Homo sapiens: one gene and its partners. The protein of the gene in region 2 interacts with the protein of the main gene of each other region in a pairwise test. Each region holds a gene or a part of one and is shown on either strand. Other genes may lie near its edges.

Evidence for each region.
Region 1: the proteins of RASAL3 (region 2) and CCDC102B interact in binary tests that used the Homo sapiens proteins (3 or more experiments, as listed by UniProt).
Region 3: the proteins of RASAL3 (region 2) and RABGEF1 interact in binary tests that used the Homo sapiens proteins (3 or more experiments, as listed by UniProt).
Region 4: the proteins of RASAL3 (region 2) and NTAQ1 interact in binary tests that used the Homo sapiens proteins (3 or more experiments, as listed by UniProt).
Region 5: the proteins of RASAL3 (region 2) and MTUS2 interact in binary tests that used the Homo sapiens proteins (3 or more experiments, as listed by UniProt).
Region 6: the proteins of RASAL3 (region 2) and PRKAA2 interact in binary tests that used the Homo sapiens proteins (3 or more experiments, as listed by UniProt).
Region 7: the proteins of RASAL3 (region 2) and KHDRBS3 interact in binary tests that used the Homo sapiens proteins (3 or more experiments, as listed by UniProt).

Annotation. Positions count from the first base shown.
Region 1 is NC_000018.10:68,804,580-68,808,079, reverse strand, and holds part of CCDC102B (coiled-coil domain-containing protein 102B), read right to left. Parts: intron 1-3,500. UniProt on the Homo sapiens protein: During interphase, forms fibers at the proximal ends of centrioles to maintain centrosome cohesion. During mitosis, dissociates from the centrosome following phosphorylation to allow centrosome separation. Contributes to CROCC/rootletin filament formation.
Region 2 is NC_000019.10:15,454,545-15,458,044, reverse strand, and holds part of RASAL3 (RAS protein activator like-3), read left to right. Parts: intron 1-210; coding exon 211-753; intron 754-1,398; coding exon 1,399-1,543; intron 1,544-1,796; coding exon 1,797-1,941; coding exon of another isoform or gene 1,942-1,945; exon of another isoform or gene 1,946-2,136; coding exon of another isoform or gene 2,137-2,196; exon of another isoform or gene 2,197-2,407; intron 2,408-3,113; coding exon of another isoform or gene 3,114-3,151; coding exon 3,152-3,388; intron 3,389-3,482; coding exon 3,483-3,500. UniProt on the Homo sapiens protein: Functions as a Ras GTPase-activating protein. Plays an important role in the expansion and functions of natural killer T (NKT) cells in the liver by negatively regulating RAS activity and the down-stream ERK signaling pathway.
Region 3 is NC_000007.14:66,771,733-66,775,232, reverse strand, and holds part of RABGEF1 (rab5 GDP/GTP exchange factor), read right to left. Parts: intron 3,351-3,500; coding exon of another isoform or gene 3,334-3,350; coding exon 3,155-3,333; intron 1,543-3,154; coding exon of another isoform or gene 1,406-1,542; intron 7-1,405; coding exon 1-6. UniProt on the Homo sapiens protein: Rab effector protein acting as linker between gamma-adaptin, RAB4A or RAB5A. Involved in endocytic membrane fusion and membrane trafficking of recycling endosomes. Stimulates nucleotide exchange on RAB5A. Can act as a ubiquitin ligase.
Region 4 is NC_000008.11:123,433,774-123,437,273, reverse strand, and holds part of NTAQ1 (protein N-terminal glutamine amidohydrolase), read right to left. Parts: intron 1,833-3,500; exon of another isoform or gene 1,762-1,832; coding exon of another isoform or gene 1,732-1,761; intron 822-1,731; coding exon 673-821; intron 65-672; coding exon 1-64. UniProt on the Homo sapiens protein: Mediates the side-chain deamidation of N-terminal glutamine residues to glutamate, an important step in N-end rule pathway of protein degradation.
Region 5 is NC_000013.11:29,029,839-29,033,338, reverse strand, and holds part of MTUS2 (microtubule-associated tumor suppressor candidate 2), read right to left. Parts: intron 1-3,500. UniProt on the Homo sapiens protein: Binds microtubules. Together with MAPRE1 may target the microtubule depolymerase KIF2C to the plus-end of microtubules. May regulate the dynamics of microtubules at their growing distal tip.
Region 6 is NC_000001.11:56,693,814-56,697,313, reverse strand, and holds part of PRKAA2 (5'-AMP-activated protein kinase catalytic subunit alpha-2), read right to left. Parts: coding exon 3,462-3,500; intron 1,380-3,461; coding exon 1,155-1,379; intron 1-1,154. UniProt on the Homo sapiens protein: Catalytic subunit of AMP-activated protein kinase (AMPK), an energy sensor protein kinase that plays a key role in regulating cellular energy metabolism.
Region 7 is NC_000008.11:135,582,956-135,586,455, reverse strand, and holds part of KHDRBS3 (KH domain-containing, RNA-binding, signal transduction-associated protein 3), read right to left. Parts: intron 1-3,500. UniProt on the Homo sapiens protein: RNA-binding protein that plays a role in the regulation of alternative splicing and influences mRNA splice site selection and exon inclusion. Binds preferentially to the 5'-[AU]UAAA-3' motif in vitro.

The DNA of each region.
Region 1 (3,500 bases), on a different chromosome or scaffold from region 2:
TATAATATGAAACTTATAGATGAGTTTGTAATCTTGAGAAGGAAAAGACGTGGAATCTTAAGAAAAAAAAGTTAGCTTTTGATTCGAAGATTAGTTGCTCAAATCCTAGTGAAACGTTCATCCCTGCTCATATTTTCTCCATGTTAGCCAAAATAAATTAGTAATTTATTCAGACATAGAGGCCACCAACTCTGCAATCATCTTTTTTTTTAAGTGTTTATATTTCTGGTTTTCATCCTTTGACATAGGAGAAGGTAGCAATAAAGAAAATAAAAAATTTAACTAGAAAGTAGAATCCTTAACACAACTGCTGATTGATCTGGGATCCGTTTTCATTTGTTTCCTTTCATTTTTGCATAGTTGTTTGTCTTAGTAAAGACAAGTAAAGGAATTGGATTAAAAATGTCAAAATAACAGGAAGTGAATACTCAGTGTTTGTATTTCTCAAAAGATCTGTCTTTCCAGTCCCTAAAACAGAAAATGGACGCCATGTGCAAGGAAAGCTGCAAAGAGTGGAAGACCAGATTAAACTCTTACATTTCTCAAAGCTTGCTTGGTTTTTATTTTGCCTCCCAATCATGTAATTATTGTCTTCAACTCTTTCCCAAGTAATTCCTGTAACGTCATATCTTAATTCTTCCTCAAAAACTCTATTTTTTCCTTGTTTTTCTTAAATATCTCATGATTTCCCAGATCTATACATTGCATTTAATTTATAAAAAAAGAGAAAAAGTACTAAGAATTGTGTGGACTCCTAAATTGAGTTTTATCATTTTTATCATTGCCTGATTTTCACACCTGTTAAATTTTCTTAAATTAGTAAATTTTCTTAAATTATAGCAAGCAGAGAATATATTGGTCCCAGTTGTTTCTAGAGGCCACCATCTTTAACATACTTCTCAGTATCAAAATAACATAAGTATGTAAATATGATAACATGAGAGCTATAGTAGAACCCAGAGAACACTGGTTCAGAAAATGTGAGGTAAATTCTCTTCCTTGATAAGGTCGTTCAAACTCATATGTGTTCCCCCTTTCAACAAGGAGATAAATACAATGCCTGAAATGTATTCTATGGTTGCTATGAAGATATTTTTGAACCGTTTATATTCTGGAGTATTAAACCTGTGCTGTCTTAAATGGTAGTCACCTATCAGATGTAGTTAGGGAACGCTTGAAATGAGGGTCGCCTGAATTGTGATGTTCGGTGAGTACTAATTAAACACAGCATGAAACGTAAAAATGTAAACTATCTCATTAATAACTTCATACTAATTACATTTTGAAGTGATATTTTTGAAAGATTGGATTAAATCAAAAATATTATTAAAATTAATTTCACATGTTCATTTTTTAACTTTTTAAATGTAGCTACTTTAAATTGCAAATGTTGCTTGAATTATATTTCTATTGGACAAAATAGCTGTAGAGCATCCAATAGACTTTAAGAGCTTCTCTTTTTCCACAGAGAATTTTACAGAAATAGAAAACTGCATTCTGATTTTTTTCAAACATGTTCAGAATGTTTTGGCAATATTGCTGTCTCTAACACCTAGAGGTTTCCTAAATACAGGAAATTAAGATAATTACTAATAATATTACTTGCAAATATATGCTTGAAAAACATATTCTACTGATAATAAAAATGCATACCAAAGTAGCCTGCTATTCAAAGGTAAGTGAATGTGACATTCTCATTCTCTTCCACATGGCCACATAATACAGAAGAGGTGATGTTGCAATAATCATACAAAAATAAAATGAATATCATTTTAAAAATTGGATATGTTTGCTGAGCATTCTTATCTAAGCTTTGAGACATCCCATTAAAATATATTTAAAGCTGTTTAGACAACATGGGAAAAAATAATTATTAATTTTAAAAATGTATGTCATTGTTAAAACAGCAGTTGTAAATAAAAACCTAAAAATAATATTAATTCATGTGTTCTTAACATTATTAATACATATAATTTTATTTTTATCCAAAATTTTGGCAAAATGATAAACACATAAAAAAATTATGGGCTTGTAATCTGCTGTATTTGAAGGCTTCTTTGTCTTGCTTTGATCACTGGCTGAAGATTGCTCTTTAATACAGTCTGTAGGACTGATCAAAATGTTACATAAGCAGAGAGAAAAGTAAATGAGATCACTGACAACACTGTAGAGTCTTGGCATGGGAATGGGTATTAACATTTATATAATGAAACCAATTATGTTAATAGGTTAGGAGAAGTTGAATATGTTTTCAGGGACAAGAAAAATTTTCATGTCCAAAGTATTTCATATATAGTGTCGTTACAACATCCTCACCTCTCAGTTCCTATTAATTCCAATAATATGACCTCACCCACTCACTGGCTGGTTATGCACCTAGATCCCATTACCATACTAGCATTTCTTTCCATATCAATGATAAGCACCTCTCTGATTACCCTTTACTATTGTCCCCATAACTCTCTTTTTTGACCTAGCTATGGCCTCCTGTCAATGGACTGTATTGTTTTTTCTCTCTTCCTCATCGGCTTCACATCCACTCTCTCCTCCCTATTCTGTGCTCCAGTTTTAACAAATTGCTCTGAGCAAGCTTGGCATTCTCTTGACCCTACTTGCTTAGAAACTCTAATGTCAGTGAATCACAGCTGTCTTCCTGCTCCATGTCTGCACCTACACTCTTGATCAGGCTTTGAGAAAACACACCCATTGCTATCTGGTCTCACTTCAGTTTCTTGACTCTGAACCTCATATGGGCTTTAATGTAGCCAAGCCAACTCTACCATAGGGAAATTAATATTTTTCCCTGATTAAATCACAAACATTCTACTGAATAATCCCATACATTAGCTATCTTCAAAATTTTCATATCTTATTCAGCTCTGCCTTATCTGTTGAGATTGCGGGGGTTTTTCTATTTCACTTACAAAAGATATGTAATTATAAGACAACTGCCATCCACTGGTTCCATCATATCTATGTGTCTAATGGATACCCATATGTTATTCTGTCTGTTTTTATAGAGAATTACTCCACGTTCTTAACACCAAACTTCCCATTTGTATGCTCTATCTAATTTCCTCTAATCCGCTCCAGGACATGGCCTCCTCAAATATACTCCTCTCCTGTTTAACTAGTTTGTACCTCTCTCTAGATTAGATTATTCCCATTAGCAAATGCACATGCTATAATACCCTCAACATAAAAAAAAAAAAAAAGATTTTGATCCCAACCCAGCAGCCATTCCATATCTTTGGCATTTTCTAAAATAAAAATTATTTTAAAGACACTTTCATTTATCTCATTTTCTCTTGAAGTCGCAGTATCATTTTCAACTCTAGTTTGCCACAAAAACAGGAAATCAGTGACTTCTACATTGCAAATCTAATGGTCAATTCCAGGCCTGAAATTCCTGTTTTACTTGGCCAACCAGAAGCCCTGTATGTGATTGTCCATTTCATCATTCCCTTTCTTGGCTTCTGAGGGCATCCTCTCTCATGGTT
Region 2 (3,500 bases):
CCCCCAACTCTCCCGGAGAGCCCAGAAAAGCTAGAAGACTTCCGCGTAACCGCCTCCGGACTCCCGTGGCTCCACTTCTTTCCCCAAAGGCCCAGCAATCTCCCTAGGGACCCGACGCAACAGGTTTGAGGCTCCACGCTTCACTTGCGGTGCCTTCTTTGGGGTGCCAACAAACCAAAACGCTTCCCCCCATCCCACTCCCATCTGCAGGACAACGTGGAGCGGGAAGAGACATGGCTGAGCGTGTGGGTGCACGAAGCGAAGGGGCTTCCCCGAGCAGCGGCGGGGGCACCCGGCGTGCGCGCCGAGCTGTGGCTGGATGGCGCGCTGCTGGCACGCACGGCGCCTCGGGCCGGCCCAGGCCAGCTCTTCTGGGCCGAGCGCTTCCACTTCGAGGCGCTGCCACCGGCACGTCGCCTGTCGCTGCGGCTGCGCGGCTTGGGCCCGGGAAGCGCGGTGCTGGGCCGCGTGGCCCTGGCGCTGGAGGAGCTGGACGCCCCACGCGCGCCTGCCGCCGGTCTGGAGCGCTGGTTCCCGCTGCTCGGGGCGCCGGCGGGCGCAGCGCTGCGGGCGCGGATTCGGGCGCGTCGCCTGCGCGTGCTGCCGTCCGAGCGCTACAAGGAGCTGGCGGAGTTCCTCACCTTCCACTATGCGCGCCTCTGCGGGGCCCTGGAGCCCGCGCTGCCTGCGCAGGCCAAGGAGGAGCTGGCGGCAGCCATGGTGCGCGTGCTGCGGGCCACCGGCCGGGCGCAGGTGCGGCACCGCGACAGCGCGGACCGGGGCTACCAGGGGTAGACCGATAACGCGCTTCGGGCAGGAGTTGGGGCGCAGGACCTGAGTTGCACCTGTAATGGGGGAGACACCTTGAAGGGGTGTGAGGGGCGTGGTCCAAGTGTCACCTGTAAGCGGCGGGGCACCTAGAAGGGCGGGGCACCTAGAAGGGCGGGGCCTGAACATCACCCGTAAGGGGCGGGGCACCTTGAAGGGCGGGACCTGAGCGTCAGCTGTGAGGGGCTGGGGCTGAGCTGCACCTGTAAGGGGCGGGGCACCTTGAAGGACTGGGCCTGAGCTTCAGCTGTGAGGGGCGGGGCCTAATTATCACCCATAAGGGGCGGGACACCTTGAAGAGCGGAGCCTAAGCTTCAGCTGCGACAGGGGCCTGAGCATCACGCGTGAGGGGCGGGGCCCAGGTTGCACCTCAGCGCTGAAAGGCTTAAATTTCTGCTGTGAGGGTTAGAGGTTCCGGCCTCGGTTATGAGCCCCAGCAGTAAGGACTGGGCCTAAGCATCAGCTACAAGGGGCGGGGCCTGTGCCTCTGGTGTGAGGGACCAGCCAAGGATCCGAATTCCCTTGGACTCTGTCTGCATCTGGTGCAACCTGACCTCCTGCCCTTCCTAGGCGCTGGTGACTGACCTGGGCACTGCGGAGCTGGCGCGCTGTGGAGGCCGTGAGGCGCTGCTGTTCCGGGAAAACACATTGGCCACCAAGGCTATCGATGAGTACATGAAGCTCGTGGCACAGGATTACCTCCAGGAGACCCTGGGTGAGCTGGGGGAGAGTCCATGTCAGCGGCCTGCTGGTGAGCTAGGGGACCTGGGTGAAGTTCTAAGAGTCCTTGAGCAACCTGGATTCTGGTAGTGAGTGGTGTTTTGGGGGTGCTAGGATCCTGGGGACAATTGGGAGCTCCCCAAGATGTTGGGTGCCTCCGGAATAACCTGAAGACAAGGTTGGAGGATGGGTGTGGCAGGTTTTGGTGGTCATGGCCCCAGCCCCTATCTGGCTGTGCTGGGCTGCAGGACAGGTTGTGCGGCGTCTCTGTGCTTCTACTGAGGACTGTGAAGTGGACCCCAGCAAATGTCCAGCCTCGGAGCTGCCAGAGCACCAGGCCAGACTTCGGAACAGCTGCGAGGAGGTCTTCGAAACCATTATCCATTCCTACGAGTGAGAATCAGGGCCCCAGCAGCTTAGCCCACCCCTGCTTACCATGCTAGCCCCGACCTCCAGTTTAGGGTGGCCAGATAAAATACAGGAGACACTCAGTTAAATTTGATGCAATAATTGGGACCATGCTTATACTAAAAAATTACTCATTTGAACCAGGCATGGTGACTCACGCCCGTAATCCCAATGCTTTAGGAGGCCGAGACAAGAGGATTGCTTGAGCCCAGGAGTTCAAGGCCAGTCTGGGCAACATAGCAAGACTCCATCTCTCCAAAAAGCTTTTTAAAAATGAGCTAGGCATGGTGGCACACACCTGTATTCCCAGCCGAGGCTGGAGGATCGCTTGAGCGCAGGATTCAAGGCTGCAGTGAGCTATGATCATGCCACAGCACCCCAGCCTGGTTGACAGAGACCCTGTCCCAAATAAAAGTAAAAATATAAATAAAAATCACTCCGTTATCTGAAATTCATGTTTAACTGGATGTCCTGAAGTTTCGTTTGCTGCATCTGGCAACCCTATCACCATGCAACCCTATCACCACTGACCCCAAGTAACCTGAGACCCAATTCCTTGTCCTGTAACCACAGTTGATTCCATATCCCCAATTTCATGCCACTGGCTCCAGTTAACATAGGACCTCAATCCTATGACCAGATGATGCCCCAAGTCCATGATCCCTGGCTTTAAGTGACCCTCCACCTCAAATCCCATGCAACTGATCACAGGAGACCTGGGATTCCAATCCCTTGACCTCTGACCCTAGGTTAACCTGCATACCTAATCCCTGACTTCAATCAAGTGACTTCTGACCCTAGGTGACCTCCAGAGCCCCAATCCTACTTTATATCTTGTACTCTGGCCCACCAGTCTCATGTCTAATTATAAGTACATCCAAGCTCATAACCTCTGTCTTCATGTGACCCTGTATCCCCAACTATAAGAGTATTATCCCCAGCGATTGCCATAGCTACACCATAAGCCATGGCCCCATGCTGATTCATAACCCCAAGCATTGTTATCTCAGATATTCCCAATCCTAGAGCCCAGACCCCAGGTTCAGTGAGAAGGAAGCCTGCATGGGCTTCATGAATAGCTCTCTGGAGGATCATGGACCAATCATGCAGTGCTTCTGGGACTCCCAACCTTATGACTTTAACCTTTATGCCCATAGCCTCCCCGTCTGACCATTCATTGCCTCTTCTGCACCAGCTGGTTCCCTGCGGAGCTGGGCATCGTGTTCTCAAGCTGGCGAGAAGCATGTAAAGAACGTGGCTCTGAGGTGCTGGGCCCCCGACTGGTGTGCGCCTCCCTCTTCCTGCGGCTCCTGTGCCCTGCCATCCTGGCACCCAGCCTCTTTGGTTTGGCACCAGACCATCCAGCACCCGGCCCAGCCCGCACCCTCACACTGATTGCCAAGGTCATCCAGAACCTCGCCAACCGTGCCCCGTAGGTGCTGGGAAGCTAGGGGTGGGGGGACCATGCTGGGAGTGTGGGGGTGGCAGGTGCCTGACCTGACCCACCCAGCCTGGCCCTGATCCAGGTTCGGTGAGAAGGAGGC
Region 3 (3,500 bases), on a different chromosome or scaffold from region 2:
TGGAGTCTGCAATTCAAGAGAGGATTAGAATGACCTAGATATTCTCCAAGGTTTCTCTGTATGTGAAGGTTATTACTCCATTAATTCAGGAGGATCTAAAGATTTTAGACCTAGAGACTAAATATGCCAAATCAGTCTGAGGTCTCACATTGCTACAGGATGGACGGCTCTTCATGCACTACAGATTTCAAATGGGGTCTTCTCATACTCATTCAGCTACTGCTCTAGGGTTACATGAAAGAAATCAAGTCTAATCCTTTTCCCTAACAAGCTCAAGGCTGGAACAGACAAAAAGGTAAGTAAACAACTGCTACAGAATGGGACAGCTGCTACATCAGAGAGTAAAAGTTGAGTGCTGTGAGAACACAGGAAAGAACAACTCAATCTGCTGGGGGAGTCTGACGAGGCTTTACAACGGTGATGTTTGGGTGAGGTCTTAAAGGATAAATAGGATCCTTTTTTTGGTTGTTTTTGAGACAGAGTGTCACTCCATCGCCCAGGCTGGAGTGTAATAGCATGGTATCAGCTCACTACAACCTCTGCCTCCCGAGTTCAAGCAATTCTCATCCCTCAGCCTCCCAAGTTATTGGGACTACAGGCGCACACCACCACACCTGACTAATAAGGCTGAATAGGATTCTAAGTGAAAGGACATTCCAGAAAGAAGGAACTACAAATGTGCAAGCCTGTGGTTTGCTTCACAACAAGCTGAATGTAGCCAGAGCACTGGGCGTGTGATGAACTGTGATGCTGGATATACAGGAAGGCTCCAGAGGGTAGGGAATCTTGATTGCTGAGCCCACTATTCTGGATTTCATCATGTGGTAGGGAAGCAAGAAAGACTGTAAATCCAAGGAGTTATCGCTGTCAGATCTGTACTTTAGAAAGATCATGCAGGTAGCTGTGTGAACAACTTGAAGGGTAGAGAAACTAGAGACAGGAACAAGAAGTAAGAGTATATTATAAAGGTTTAAGTAAAAGAAAATAAGCACCTGGAAAATAGGAGTACAAAAGGTAAAATTCAAAAGACTTTTCTGAGTTGGAAGAAATAGAACTTGGTCAAGTTGTAGCTAGCATGGGAGATAAAAGAGAAATCAAGAATGAAACCAAGGTTTTTTAGCTAACTTGGTAAGTAGTGATGCCATTAATTGACTCAGGAGAAGGGTTAGGAGGAAAATGTTCAGAATGCGGAGAATAATAAATAAAAGCAATAAATTTGGCTTTGGATTAGCTGCATGTGAACCACCTGTATTAATTCCCAAACACAGGCCAGGTGCAGTGGCTCACGCCTGTAATCCCAGCACACTGGGAGGCCAAGGCGGCCGGATCACTTGAGCTCAGGAATTTGAGACCAGCCTGGGCAACATGGTGAAACCCTGTCTCTACATAAAATACAAAACTTAGCTGGGCATGGTGGCATACTTCTGTAGTCCTAGCTACTTGGGAGGCTGAAGCAGGAGGATCACTTGAGCCCAGGAAGCAGAGGTTGCAGTAAGTTGAAATTGCACCATTGCACTCCAGCCAGGGTAACAGAGCAAGACCCTGTCTCAAAAACAAACAAACAAACAAAAAGCACAAGCACTATCTAAAAGACAATGATTTTCCAAGTATGATTCCCCAGACAGCAGCGCAGCATCACCAGGCAACTTGTCAGAAATGCAAATTCTCTAGTCTTACTCCCAAGCCACTAAAATCAGAGACTCTGTGGGTAAGGTCCAGCAATCACTGCTTTTACAAGCTTTCCGAGAGATTTAGCAGGGTCACAATTAAAAGCAGTAAGAAATAGAAACAAAAATCACAGGTGGAGGTGCTAAGTCTGAGGGTGGAATCGGGACCCCTCTTTCTCTGGGACAGACAAGAAGTTAATATAAAGGTACTAGGACATTTTTATGTGGTGAGGGGAGGAAGCTGAGGGAGTTTGTGCCTAGTGGCCTCTACTCTGTTTTTGAAACAGGATCTGCTACTGACAGCATCAGGCATGCAGTGGAAACCCTGAGGAGATCATTCATGTTCTCGGCTAAAATTTTCTCTCTTTGATTGAACACAGTCACTGAAAGCAATGTGTAATTTCTAATTCTCTGAGTTCACTACAAATGACAGCAAAGGAGTCACTCAACAAATATTGGCTGACTGGATGAAAAAAAAAAAACAAACAACTAGCTAGAGGAGTTGGCAGAATTCCATTTGACTTTCTTCTGTTGAAGCAGTTTTAGAATTCTAGAATGCTCTGGCAAAGAATTAACATTATTCATGGCATTTTATTAGTTCCTATGCTCACTAGCCATCCCATCATTTATTTATTTATTTATTTATTTTTTTTTGAGACAGAGTCTCACTCTGTCTCCCAAGCTGGAGTGCAGTGGCATGATCTCAGCTCACTGCAACCTCCGATACCTGGGTTCAAGCAATTCTCCTGCCTCAGTCTCCCAAGTAGCTGGGATAACAAATGCGTACCACCATGCCCGGCTAACTTTTTTAATATTTTTAGTAGAGAGGGGGTTTCACCATGTTGGTCAGGCTGGTCTCGAACTCCTGACCTCAGATGATCCTCCTGCCTCACCCTCCCAAAGTGCTAGGATTACAGGCGTGAGCCACTGCGCCCGGCCCATCGTTTAATTTTTAACATCATTATATTTCCGGATAATACCAAATGCTAACCTAATTTTTAAATATAAGTTAAATTTCTACAATGCAATGACTATGTATACAAGTCAACAGATTTCTACTACTGTGTTTTATCACTGAGCTAGATGCCATGCTAAATATATATTAAAAGAATGAGGGAAATAATGCTTGATGAGTGCCATTTCCAAGCCCTGCAGTGGGTACGTCAAATTTATTAGCTCATTTAATCTTCACCAGGAAATATGCCTATCTCCATTCTTCCACTCCAAGGAGCTTATTGTCTACATTTGAGAACTAAAACTAACACAACCCAAAGAAAATAATCAGAAGACAAACACAAAATGAAGAAACTACTGAAAGCTGTTCATTAAAAGCTGACTGAGAAGAAGAGAGGAAAACATCCTTTTCCTTAATATTAAACTGACTTGCTGATAGCTCAAAGCAGAAGTGAAAAAATGTATTTAGACGGTGACAGAACTATGTATCCAGTCACGTCACTGTTCAACCGCCCCTAGTTAAGTCCTTTTACCGCTCCGCCAGCTCCCAGTCCTCCTGAATCTGCTTCTGCCTGGCTTTGTGGTACTCTTCCCTCCAGCACTTGGAGCAGAAACCCTGCCAGGCAGGGTTGCCGTAGTAACCACATCCTTTCTTGCACAGGAGATCCGATTGATCCACATGAATTCCTCGGCGTTCAGACTTAAGGCTCATCTTCTTCCTGCTAACCACTGAACAAACAAGAAAGTGCTGTTGAAAATGAATTATCATTCTACTAAATAAAATCTTACCAATTATGAACAAAAAGTGAGTGATTCCATTATCTTCAAGCTGTTAAGAGAGGGATGGAGGGAATGAAGGAGGGAGGGAGAAAGAGGAGG
Region 4 (3,500 bases), on a different chromosome or scaffold from region 2:
CATGTGAGATCGGTCAGAAGCAAAGTTCTTCAAATATGAATCTGCACGGATCACTCTAAATTTCCTGCAGAAAAATCAATATACACTCACATTAGGGAGATGTCATGTTTGAAATTCTAACTCCATTTTTATATCGACTCATTTCCTATGACATGCACAAAACTACTCATGCATTTCTGTATGGTTAGTAATACAGGCAACTTTACTACCTATTAGAGAAGCATAGGAAATGATCAACCAAACCCCGAAACAGAAAGGCAAAGGCACAAAAATATATCTGGTTGCCTCGATTTACTCGATTTGTGTATCAAGGGCAATGGGCATGATTTTCTGATGCTGCCCTCACAGCCCTCTCAATGGTGACAGCACGAGGTATCCCCACAAAAACAAAAAGAATATAAGAAAAATCCCCAACCCGCTTGAAATTAAATGTCTGAGATCTCATCACACAAAATTTTAAAAGAATGACAACCTTTCATATGATAGATAACTTTTAAAGCTTTAAAACATTTTGAATCTCCTGTGTTGCAAATACATCATTCTTAAACATCAACTCAATGGTGATGTCAGACGAGATCTTTACAAAACAATTGTCAAAAAAAAAAAGAACCTCTGTGGAATCGTCAAATTCTTACTTCAGAAAATAAGTAAATCCATCTTGAATGTCCTCACCTCCTAAACTGTGGGTGAATGTCATCATCAGACTTAAAGGCATCTTCTACATAAGTGTCAAAGAGGCAGGGAAATGGCAAGACAGTATCGAGATCATAAATGAAGTTCTGTCCTCCACTTGAAACATGAAGCAAAACAACATGGTAATCCTAAAAGTAAAAGTTGCTGAAGTTAACCAAGTTACTTCATAATGATGAAATCCCAGTATTCAGACACATACCTTATCACTAAAAAGGATATAGGACTGCTACAGCCCTCCTTATAATAGCAAAATAGAATAAAGCAAACACAACACCCTGAAAACATGAAAACAGACTAAATGTCCACAGATAGGGAAATGGTTAAATAATGGAAATGTTCATAGTCATTAAATGCACATCCTCTGAAACTGCAATTTTACCTCTAGGAAACTTTTTTTTTTTTTTTTTTTTTGAGATGGAGTCTTACTCTCGTCACCCAGGTTGGAGTGCAGTGGCATGATCTCAGCTCACTGCAACCTCCACCTGCCGGGTTCAAGCAATTCTCTTGCCTCAGCCTCCCGAGTAGCTGGGATTACAAGCGCGCACCACGATGCCCAGCTAATTTTTTGTATTTTTAGTAGAGATAGGGTTTCATCATGCTGGCAAGGCTGGTCTTGAACCCCTGACCTCAGGCGATCCACCCGCCTCAGTCTCCAAAAGTGCTAGGATTACAGGTGTGAGCCACGGTGCCTGGCCCCACATATTTTTTTTAATTGAGACAGAGTCTTGCTCTATCACCCAGGCTGGCGTGCAGTGGCATAATCTCAGCTCACTGCAACCTCCGCCTCCTGGGTTCAAGCGATTCTCCTGCCTCAGCCTCCTGAGTAGCTGGGACTACAGACACCCGCCACCACGCCCAGCTAATTTTTGTATTTTTAGTAGAGATGGTGTTTCACCATGTTGGCCAGGCTGGTCTCCAACTTCTGGCCTCAAGTGATCCCCCCGCCTCAGCCTCCCAAAGTCCTGGAATTACAGGTGTGAGCCACAGTGCCGGCCCCACCTGCTATTTGTTAAAAGCTATCTGTATATAAAGACATACGTGCGCATTCAGAAGTACATTTGCATGCATGTGAATGCAGAGGAAAACGTCTGCAAGGATCTGCTCCAAACTAGTAACAAAGGAGGCTTCTGGGGGTCAGCCTGGAGAGGAGAAGGAGGACTTTAATTTCTAGTTTGGAACCACTTTTGCAATTAAAAGAAAGGAAAAACTATTTTTTAAAAAAAGAAGTTAGCCAAGCTTTCATCTGTAGCCACTAAGGGAGAAAGAAAAAGACAGCTTTTCCCACACAGCTCTGTCACAGTGTGGATGTTAATTCTCACCCTCACTCTCAGACTCAAGGTACTGCCCAACACCAGCGATGAGCTGAAAGGGATTTCAGGGAGGTGATCAAGGGACATGAGCAATGTGGTGCTCTGAGTTCTTCCAAAGAAAAACGCTCTCATAGAGAACAGCACTGTGAAATCAAAGCAACCTAGCAACATTAGTAATACCAACTTATATTTCTACAATATCTTAGAGTTTAAAAGGCACTTTCTTTCTCAAATATCATTCTACTTGAGCCCTGTATAAATCCTGAGGTAAGAACAATACTTAAGACTAGGGATGCTGTGCCTTTAAAAGCCTGAGTGCTGCCTTTGGCTCTAAGTCTGTCTTAGCAAAACAGAAAGATTCAAAAATGAATGCCTATTCTCTGGACTTCCCCAGATACATCCTATCCTCCACGCCCCCAAACAGTCCACCACTGCCTCCCAATGGGTCTGCTCATGTCATTCCCCTCCATCTGCAGCAACCTTCTCTACCTCTTTCTACCACACAAGCTCCAGCTAAAGGCTTTCTTCCCACGAATCAATTTTTTATCTTCTCCCACCCCCTGCCAGAATCTCCGCCTTATCCAAATTCTGTTTCTCTCTTAACATCTTCTAATTCATATTACAGGTTTGTTGTTGTTGTTGTTTTGAGACAGAGTCTCTCTCTGTCACCCAGGCTGGAGCACAGTGGCACAATCCCAGCTCACTGCAACCTCCACCTCCGGGGTTCGAGTGATTTTCCCACCTCAGCCTCCCGAGTAGCTGGGATTACAGGCGCGCCACCACACCCAGCTAATTTTTGTATTTTTAGTAGAGATGGGGTTTCACCATGTTGACCAGGCTGGTCTCGAACTCCTGGCCTCAAGTGATCTCCCTGCCTCTGCCTCCCAAAGTGCTGGGATTATGGGTGTGAGCCACTGTGCCCAGTCCCATATCAGTTTTTTTGAACCACACATTATCTATTCTATGTGAAAGACTGTGCTGCTGAACTGCAGATGCAAAGATGAAAAAGATAAGTTCTCACCCTCAAGAAGTTCCCAGAGAAGTGAATGGGAACCAGGTAAACTGCTGCAGGATATTGTGGAGAACAGAGAACATCAGAGGCAGGAGAGCAATGCAGGCAGGAGAGCAATGCAGGCAGGAGCAGGTAAGCGCCTGGTTCCAATCTCAGCCCCTCCCCTCGGCAACCTCACTCTGCTCTTTTATAAAATGGAGATAACTGGAGTATCTAACTCCAGGGTGTCCAATCTTTTGGCTTCCCTGGGCCACACTGGAAGAAGAATTGTCTTGGGCCACACATAAAATACACTAACACTAACGATTGCTGATAAGCTAAAAAAAAAAAAAATCACAAAAAAATTTCATAATGTTTTAAGAAAGTTTACAAATTTGTGTTGGGCTGCATTTAAAGCTGTCTTGGGCCACATGCAGCCCATAGGCTGCAGGTTAGACAAGCTTGGTCTACCTCATAGTGCTGCTAGAAGCATTAGTGTGTAAATG
Region 5 (3,500 bases), on a different chromosome or scaffold from region 2:
GTATTTTCAGATCTGTACTATGTGTTTACCTAGTTAAAAACCTGAGCCTGAGTTATCTCCTCTGGTCGTCTGCTCGAGTGAGGCGATGCTCCCAGGAAGGTTTGAGCAAGTTTCACCAGAATGGAAGTTCTAGGGCACAATCTCATCAACCGCTGACTTCATAGCACCAAAAACAATGTCTAGCACATAGCTAAAGTCAATAAATATTTATTGAAGAATCATGTTTCCATTTTTTCCTAAGTTTAATAATAACATAACGTTACTGTCACTTTCTCCTGTAGCTAGCAGTTTGGCCTAGAATACAACCTGTGGGCAGTACCTTTTATATATGCAATTCTGTACTCACTAAGTCTGTTCATATTATCAGTGTTTTATTAATATTAAACAGGAAAAAAAGAGAGAGAACTAAATAAACTATTCCTTTAAGTTACAATAAAAAATAGTGCTAAGGGCCATGCATGAAAAGATACATCTGTTAATTAACTCTGTTCTAAATCACAGCACATTTTATGTGTCAAACTTATATCTCAGGAATCATAAGCATTTAACAGTATTCTTTAATGGGGGCTATAAAAGCTTTGATCCAAGCTGTTGAAGAGATAAACCCTTAAATTGATACTCATTTAATGTTGAAATAGATACAAAGTCCTCCTTCAAATTGACATTGTAGAAACAAAAGATTAGGCCTTTAAAGTTTTATCATAATCACACTGTAAAATATGCATGACTGTTATAGTAGATAGTCCTTGGCTATAGCAAATTATATTCCTATGAAAGAACATTCTACATCTGCACTCTGATAAATTTTTTACCATTCTCTACTTACTCTCACTATCAATCTCTGGTTTTTCTCATATATACCCTTTTTTAATTTTAGTTTCTAAATTTTGGGTCCCATTGCACATTGCTTTGAGCAGGTGCTCTTATGAAGAAATTAATATCATTTCCAAACTACATCTGTCAGGTTTTAGGATTGCAATATGCTGATCTTAGTAGTTACTCAGTGCCTTGAAACTGAGTTGTTTTTAGGGATTAAAATTCACCACATTCTCTCTCAACAATGATCTTAAGGATTTCAGTAACTTCAATGCCTGTCATTTTGTTGGGTAATTTGTTTCTGGTGAGATCGCAAATTCTTTAAAAGGGGGAAAACTGCGCCTTTGATGTCTAGTCTGTGCATTTTTAATTAAACAAGGGAATCTACAGAAAGCTTCATACTCTTTTCCTTCATCTTTACTGACAGAATACAGCAGGTGATGCTGCACAGTCATAAAACAACGTTTGGAAACCCCAAACGTTGCTGTTCCCCTCCCTCCATCCCAATGGAGGGTTTTTAGAGAACTCACTTTGAAAGCAAACAAAAGAACCCTATGATTTCAAACAAACTCGTTAAGTCAAGGCATATGAACAAATACATTCTTACCAGGCTGTCCCTCTTCCTATTTGCCCTGCACTGTCCTCAATGGGATAGTGTGCCGTGGAGACAGAGGGTACAGGTGAAGGCTTTGTTAACAAGCCACTGGGATAGTGGTGGGGGAAGGGTGTCTGGGATGGTTAATTTTATGTGTCAACTTGGTGGGGTTGCAATACCCAGATATTTGGTCAAGCATTCTAGATGCTGCCATGAAAGTATTTCTTATATTAGATTAACATTTAAATCAGCAGACCTTGAATAAAGCAGCAGACCCTTCAGCATGTAGGTGAGTCTCATCTAATCAGTTGCAGGGTTTAATAAAAACAGACTGACTCCTCCTAAAGAAAAGGGGATTCTGCTAGTAGATCACCTTCAGACCCAAGCTGCAGCACCAACTCTACCCTAAGTCTCCAGGCTGCTGTCCTGCCCTGCAGATTTTTGACTTGCCAGCCTCTACAATCATGAGCCAATTTCTTAAAATCAATCAGTCAATCAATCTCTCTCTATATATATATATAGAGATTATGTGATGTACCCTCTCTATATATACATCTATATCTGTCTCTACATATGAGATATATATATTGAAACATATATAGATAATATATATTGAGAGACATAAGTATAGATGAATATAGACCTGTGAACACACACCACACACACACACACACACACACACACACACACCTATTAGTTCTATTTGTCTGGCAAACCCCAATCGATGCAGTGCCCCCCAGAGATGAGTGGCAGCAGACAGTGAGGAAGGAGAGCAGCCCTGGATCACACCTCTGTACACTGCACGCACATCGCCTCACTCCATCCTCTCAGCCAAGCCCCTTTCTTCCCACCTCCCTTTACCAAAAATAAAAAGGGCTCCCAAGTTGTTGGAGGGAGGGAGTGTCCCTGAGACCTCAGGAGAGCCAGTGGCAGAGGGCACCTGTTTAGGTAAACATATTTAATACCTGGACATGACTAGATCCCAGATGATCTTGGAAGCCACTTCTGGAAGTTTTAAATGCCTGTGCTGTTCCTGCCAATTGGGAAAAGAGTTCCTCTCTCAGAAGAGTGCTTACTCTTGATTTTTCCACTTCTACCCATGCTATGTAACCAGCAGGGATCTGTCGATAAGGATGGAAGAGTCTGAAGCTGGTTTGAGTTTTTATTTTTAAGAGGTTCTCATTTTATTTAAAAAAAAATCTGGCTTCTATAACTGAAAAATACTTCCATTGCAACACATTATCAAAAATGTGTTCTTTTCCTAGAGACCAGACTGCAGCCACCCCATGATGAGCTTGGGGCACACTGGCAGAAGAAGTCGGCTGTTTTTTCTCCCTGCACTGAGCTCAAACACAAGAGGGGGACTCGCTGGGTTACATCATGTCATAGCTGTAGCAGGTGGCCAAGGACCAGCCTGTTCCCCACTTTTGAGTAAAGAAGGTTACCACAGAAATGAGCCCAGCGCAACCTGAGAAGAGGCCTGGGTCTCGTTCTGATGATGGCAGAAAATGGTCCCCAGATACAGGGAGGGAAACTGACATTTCAAACGAACTTGTAAAGTCGAGGCCCAAAAACAAATAAATTCTTTGAAGAAGACTTTGGGATGCTCGAGGTGCGAGGCCATGATGCTCTCTCCACACCAGTGGGGTCTCTCTGAACCCCTCAGAACCGCCAAAGCCACACAATGTCCATACAATCCCATTTCCTTGAGTCTTGACGTGGTGCCTAGATAATGAAGTAGAGAAAATAGTTTGGGGAAAACTATGCATGTAATATATAAACTATTCTTGGAGGAAGCAGAACAACACAGAAAAGAAATATACACGAAAATATAGAAGGGCACAAAGAAAGAATTACAGACAATGTGGGGTTTGGGCCTACATATCCAAATCAATTTCCCTCATGAGTTTGTTTTTATAGAGAAAAATCTAGGCTCTGGCTATGGTTTGGATATGGTTGGCTTGTCTGTGCCAACTCTTATGTTGAAATGTGATCTCCAATGTTGGAGGTGGGGTCTAGTGGGAGGTGTGTGGGCCATGGGGGCAGATGCCTCATGAATGGCTTGGTGCCCTCCTTTTGGTAATGAGCA
Region 6 (3,500 bases), on a different chromosome or scaffold from region 2:
AACGACTCACACTTGTAATCCCAGCACTTTGGGAGGGCAAGGTGGGTGGATTGCTTGAGCCCAGAAGTTCAAGACCAGCCTGGGCAACATGGCAAAACTCCATTTCTACTAAAAATAAAAAAATTAAAAAAAATTAGCTGGGTGTGGTGGCTTGTGCCTATAGTCCCAGCTACTCAGGAGCCTGGGGTGGGAGGAACACCTCAGCTTGGGAGGTTGAGGCTACCTACAGTGAGCTGTGATCACACCACTGCACTCCAGCCTGGGCGACAGAGTGAGACCCTGCCTTAAAAAAAAAAAAAAATTCTTTGCTGGCTAATGATGAAAAGGGGAAAGAGTTCTGGAAAGATGTCAAAAGAACATGTTTGTAAACAAACACGGATGAAATCTTAGGTAAGAAGAAAAAACCTCTAAGAAACATGCCTTGATAAGTCATAGGCAGGATGCAGTGAATCATCTTGCTACTATACACAGGTGTGGGATATACAAAGGTCATATTCATAGGCGCATCAGCAATGGCACTTTCCAAACTTTCTCAAGTGACAAAAAAGCCTTCACAGTAAGCTGACTAGCAGCTATTGAATTCAAAAACTTAGCAAAACTTTTTATGCTTTATGTCTTTAACCATATGTAAAATACAAAATCTCACCCTATTTCTCCATTTGAAATTTCTTCAGACACTTTCTAAGCATACCATCTTTCCAGGCCTTTTAGCATTGTGTAGTCAAAGATGAATAAGACACACTCTCTACCCTGATATCATAATTTAAGAGAGAAAAAAGACACACTGAGAAATAACTAGATACAGGATGAGGATTAAATAATAAAAGCATGAACAAAATGTTGATAAAACAGAAATGGAAGCACGTGTGGAAATCACAAAAGGGGTGGCATGAACTTTAATGGATGAATGGAAGTCTATCAGGTCAAAAAAGAAACAAGAAAAGACATCAAGGCAAAGTGAATAATATAAACAAAGACATGAAGGCATAAAATCTATGTTAGGTTTGAGAAACAAGGACAAGTTCAATGTGGCTGAAGCATGAGTACTGGGGTGAGGTGGTGAGGGCAGGAAATGAGACTTTGGGAGAATCATTTAATTAACATTATTATTCCTATGAGAAAATATGCAGAACAGAAACAAAAAGAAAAATCACCTTATGTCTTTGATAGTTGCTCGTTTCAGTGGGTCAACCTGCAGCATATGCATCAGGAGAGTGGCGACAGAACGATTGAGATATTCTGGGATATAAAAGACACCCCCTCGGATCTTCTTAAATAACGTAGGTACATGCTCATCATCAAATGGGAGGGTGCCACAAAGAAGAGCATACAAGATAACACCACAGCTCCAGATATCAACTTCAGGACCTGCATACAATCTAAGAAAAAAGATGACAACACAAACCTGAAATGCAAGAATCACTTTTTCTCTATGTACCCTACTTCTATATATAGGTAGTCTACATTCAGTACATATTCATTTCCAAGGTCTTTAATGAAGTCCATGGCTGCTCCCCAATATTCAGTGTTTGTTCCCCAAAGAGAGTAATGGGGCTAGCCAACTACTATTCAAGCCTGCCAAGTGAATAGGGTATTTTTATTTGTCACAAATTCATTTAACTGAAACATACGAATTAAAACATATAATACTTTCTGTGGTTGATTTTTGAGGGAAACAAAGTAGATGACCACAAACTTGAAAAAATACTATGGTGTATAGGTTAAATCTTTTTCCCAAAGAACTATTACAAGAAAGAAAACATATATATAATGTATACATATAATAGAATTTCTACCCCTGGCACACCTTTAAAGAATATTAAGGCTGGTCACGGTAGCTCACACCTGTAATCCTAGTACTTTGGGAGGCTGAGGCGGGCGGATTGCTTGAGGCTACGAGTTTGAGGCCAGCCTGGGCAACATGGTGAAACGCTGTTTCTACTAAAAATACAAAAAATAGCCAGGGATGGTGGTGCACATCTTAGTCCCAGCTACTCAGAAGGCTGAGGTGGGAGGATCATCTGAGCCCAGGAGGTGGTACAGTGAGCTGAGATTGTGCCACTGCACTCTAGCCTAGGTGACAGAGCGAGACTCTATCTCAAAACAAAAAATATATATATATATATATATAATATATCATATATATAGAGAGAGAGATATTTAAAACATTAAAGTACTTAATTAGTACTGTGTAGACAGTATTTATCCTGTATCACATTATCCTGAGTACTTACTATTTCTATTCTCATCACTTCCTAACTCATATGACTAAAATCATCTTTGATCCAGATAACCTATGCTTATAGTATTATTCCTTTTTTCTCTTACGTTTCTACAGCATTACAATTCCCATGATAGCATATTACCATACTCAAACCTGGGTCTGAGGTAACAAAGTAAATCTTTACTATTCTAATGAAAAGAATATAATCTGTTTATATAAAAAATGGTGATTGTTTACATCATTTGCTGTATTGTTCAAACTCCTTGCAATGGACTGAATGCTTATGTCCTCTCAAAATTCATGTGTTGAAATCCTAACCCCCAAGGAGATAGTATTAGGAGGTGGGGACTTAAGGGGGGTGATTAGGTCACTAGTGCAGAGTTCTCATGAATGGGATTAGTGCCCTTATAAGAGCGACCCCAGAGAGATCCCTTGTCCCTTTCACCATGTGAAGTTACAGTGAGCATACAGTAGTCTATTAGGAAGCAGACCCTCACCAGATACCAAATCTTGATCTTGGACTTCCCAGACTTCAGAACTGTGAGAAATACATTTCTGTTGTTTATAAGCTATCACCTTTATTGTATCTTTCTTATAGCAGCCCAAATGGACTAAGATAATTCTTTATCTGCTATTTGCAATAATACTTTAACCATATTTTCTCTTATAGGATTCTGTTAACTTTTAAAATCACACGTTGATCACTGTAGAAAGACTTGAGTTTACCACTGCAATCTGTATAAACATTTTTATAATGTACCAATGAATAAGTTATGAGTAACTACACAATCTCTACTTGTGTAATTTCATGAAACAATATTTTCCCCCAAAATCTCATTTTTCCAAACACAAAATATAAAACAATGCTCTATATACTTTGGAAAATATGCAAGGTATTATTAAAGAACTATATCTAATAAATAAATGACACTAGCTTAAATTTAGCAAATTCTTACTCTCTTATCTGCACTTTTGTAAAATGAAAGATATGTTAAATCAGGATCTACTTCAGTTATTTTTCTAATGGGGAAAACTTCGTAAGTATATTTATAATGACATCTAAATGAAATGTTTAACATTTTTTGATATAACCATTATCCCTTTAACAGTGGAAAAATAAATGAATAATCCATTTCTACCATGTTAAAATCTTACCTTCCATAGAGAATATATTGTAATTAAATGTTATCAAAATGAACACAAGATTACAAAAAGCTTATGCTTCACTGATTATTACCTGCCTGAGATGACTTCAGGTGCTGCATAATTTGGAGAT
Region 7 (3,500 bases), on a different chromosome or scaffold from region 2:
TTCAGTGTCCTATAATCCCTTTTATGGCATTTCTGATGAAGGGAACATGCAGCATCTGTTACACTTTCTCCAAAGATGAAGAGATTTTATTTATAACCTCGGCTAGTGGAACACTGTTTTTTTTTTTGGTTTTGTTTTTTAAAGCACTGGTTTTTCAAGACAGAACATAGGCCTTGAACTTTGAATCCTGAATCTGCTCCTTCTTTACCAGTCCTGTGACTTTGGGCAAGGCACTTAACTTCCCTGACCTTAAATTCTCATTTGTACAGTAGAGATCATAGTAGGTGGTTATAAGGAAAACGTGACATATATCAAAGTGCCTTGTGGAGAGCAGTTTCTCATCAAATATTACATCCTTCTTTAAAGCCCCTTTTTATACTGAGATGAGATTTACAGTAGGTTTTTCTGTTTCCTTCAGGAGCTAACAAAATTAATCTTATTCATTTGTAACCTGTGACTACCCGTCCAGTGCTAGAAGACAACAGTAACTTAGGAAAGTTATTTTCTCAAATACTATCATATTTCTTCCCATCACATGCTTTTACCAGGAACTTAGAAAAAATCAATGGTAATCTTCATCTGAACAATGTTATCAAGTCTCTGTATAGGGTTGGTTCAGTCCAACGAACATTTACTAAGTGCTTACAATGTGCCAAAAACTGAGCTAGTAGCCAGAGATTAACCTAGAGATAAAGAATTTTTCCTTAGAAGTTAATAATCTTTTGAAAACTGGACATATTATGATTGTTCTACATAGCTATATACTAAATACTATGTTACATAAAAATTGCTATGTGAATAAAACTGAAAAATCACACAGAAGGCATCTGTGGTGGGTTCTCTGCAGGAGACAATTTTTAAAAACCATCTTGTGACCATTCATTCATTCATTCAGTAAATATTTACTAAAGACCTACTATGTGCCAGACATTATATACTAGTTATTGGGAATAAAAAGGTGAAGTGTGGTGGGTGGGAGGAAGGGGAGGCAGGGGGAGAGTGCCTACCCTCATGGAATTTAGAATCTAATTTAAGATGTTCTAGTTCCATGTAATAATTTTAGTATATTCAAAGATGGCCAACTTTCCCATTTGATGCATGAATGAATAACCATTTATTTGTGTTACAAGCTCCTTGGTTTTCTAAGTTGGGTATCTTATAATACACCCACCCTATCTAAAATCCAAGAAACAAAGAAACGATTTTTCTTTTTTTTTTTTTTTTTTTGAGACGGAGTCTCGCTCTGTCACCCAGGCTGGGGTGCAGTGGGGCGATCACAGCTCACTGCAACCTCCACCTGCCGGGTTCAAGCAATTCTCCCACCTCAGCCTCCTAAGTAGGTGGGTTTACAGGTGCGCACCACTACACCCGGCTAATTTTTGTATTTTTTTTTTTTGGTAGAGATGAGGTTTCACCATGTTGGCCAGGCTGGTCTTGAACTCCTGACCTCAAGTGATGTGCCCACCTTGGCCTCTGAAAATGCTAGGATTACAAGCGTGAGCATCGTGCCGAGCCCAACATAAAAAAATTTTTTAAGAAGAATTTACTTCCCATTCCCCCTACCATGCTGCAAAACTAAGCGTGATGGGTGAGTAATCTTTAGGTTTTCAAACAGTTGAGACCAATGGCCAAGGTCTGAAGTTATGCCAGAGGTTGCAAGCTGTATTAGAAAAGTTGGAAGTAGAAAACTGGGTCAGTGGAGGAAGATGAGGTCAAACGGGTATCTGCAAGGCAGTGCTACTGATGGCAAGCCACTGTAAGCAAGCTGAAGGGCTTTATCTACTCCTTATACCAAGTACCAGCAAAGTTTGTTATATACAGTGAAGCTTTTACTATACTGAAAAAGCCACTGAAGCTTTTACTATAACTGTGCCAAGGCAGCTCACAAAATGCTAAGCTAAATGAGGAAAATCTTTTCTCTTGACTAGTAATCTTAAAAGGCACTGCCAGGAATAATAGATGCTAAATTAAGTGGGAAAGCTATAACGTTTGTAATCTGAACCCTTCATGATGATAATTCAACTCGGGGAAGGAGGTGCACTCATGATGGTATTTCTTTTCCTTTGGTGTCCCACTATACCACCCAAAGCACACCTGGAAAGCACACAGCTGTTTTATGTATGCAAGACTTGTAATTGTATGAAGCTGATAAAATTGCAAATACTGCATTCCAGCCAAATTACAACACTGGCGGATATGACCGTCAGTTATTTGAAGGCAACGCTACCATGTGACAGAAAGAGCACTGGCTCTGTGTTGAAATCACAGCTGCAGTAACAGTCAGTGCCTGGAAGAGTGCCAGGCATGAGTGAGTGTGGGAATCAAACAATGAAGGTTGACTTTTTCCTTTAGAGCTCTTAAACCTTTGTCTGGTTCTGGAAAAACGCAGGTAATCTTCTACAGGGCCATTATCCCATTATCTTTGGTAGCAGATGGAAAAGGGAGTAAATTAATCCTACAGAATACTTCTCAATTCAATTGTTTTAATGCCTTTCCTATCATTTACAAAAATAAAAAATAAATAAAACAATCAAAAGTACAAGCAGCAAACCCAAATGTCTTGAATGTCTCTTGCTTTTGCTTTTCCTCCTTTGGACTTTAACCTTTCAAGAATTTTTCAGTTTTATTAATCTATATAATTTATTTCCAGACTCTAATAATTAGAGTATACATGCTGAGACAGACAACATGTGTGTCTGGCTCACACGGTAGAAATCCAATCTTTATTGAATGGAAAGATGAATACATGTAATGAAGGCAATAGTTCTTTCTGAAATAAGTGGATTATGAAGCCCAAAAAGTTAAATATCTTGCCCGATATTAAAATTTATGGTAAAATGGGGTATAGGATCCAGGTTTCCCACACAACCTGCCTGGCAATTTCTACTACATCATCCAACCACATCTGTATTAAATCTAAACCTAAGAAATCAATGTAAGCCAAAGTGGAAATGAACAGACACTGGGCCTACCTAAAAGGAATTTAAGATTTACTCTCCTTTAGAGTCCCTGATACTTTCAGGAGACTCAGCATTTATGGAAGAGCTGAGGCATAATTATTATTGTCATCTGGTAAGATTATTAGGAAGTAGGAACACATTTAACTGTAACGAATTCAAAGAGAGGAAACACATCCTTCCTCAGCTGAATAACAAACTTGTAAAACTATTACGGGATTTGTTAAAATATAATTCAGTGGGCTCCCAGTATGCACTCTCTCCCAAGTATAAAGAGATAAAAGCTATCCATTCCTGCCCTTCCAGAGGTTCACAAGCTAGGTGGGAGAGAGAAATGTAAGAACTGTAGTAATGCTCAACAGGTTAGCTATTACCACCTCTAAATTTCCCTAGCAATGATTGACCTACGTGTAGAAGGACACAAGGAGACAGTCAAATGAAACATAAGAACACCATTCTAGGCTGAGGAGGCAGTATAAGCAAAGGTCTGGAAGACTAAGATGACACAGAATGTTCAGGGAATTACAAAAACTTAAATATGTC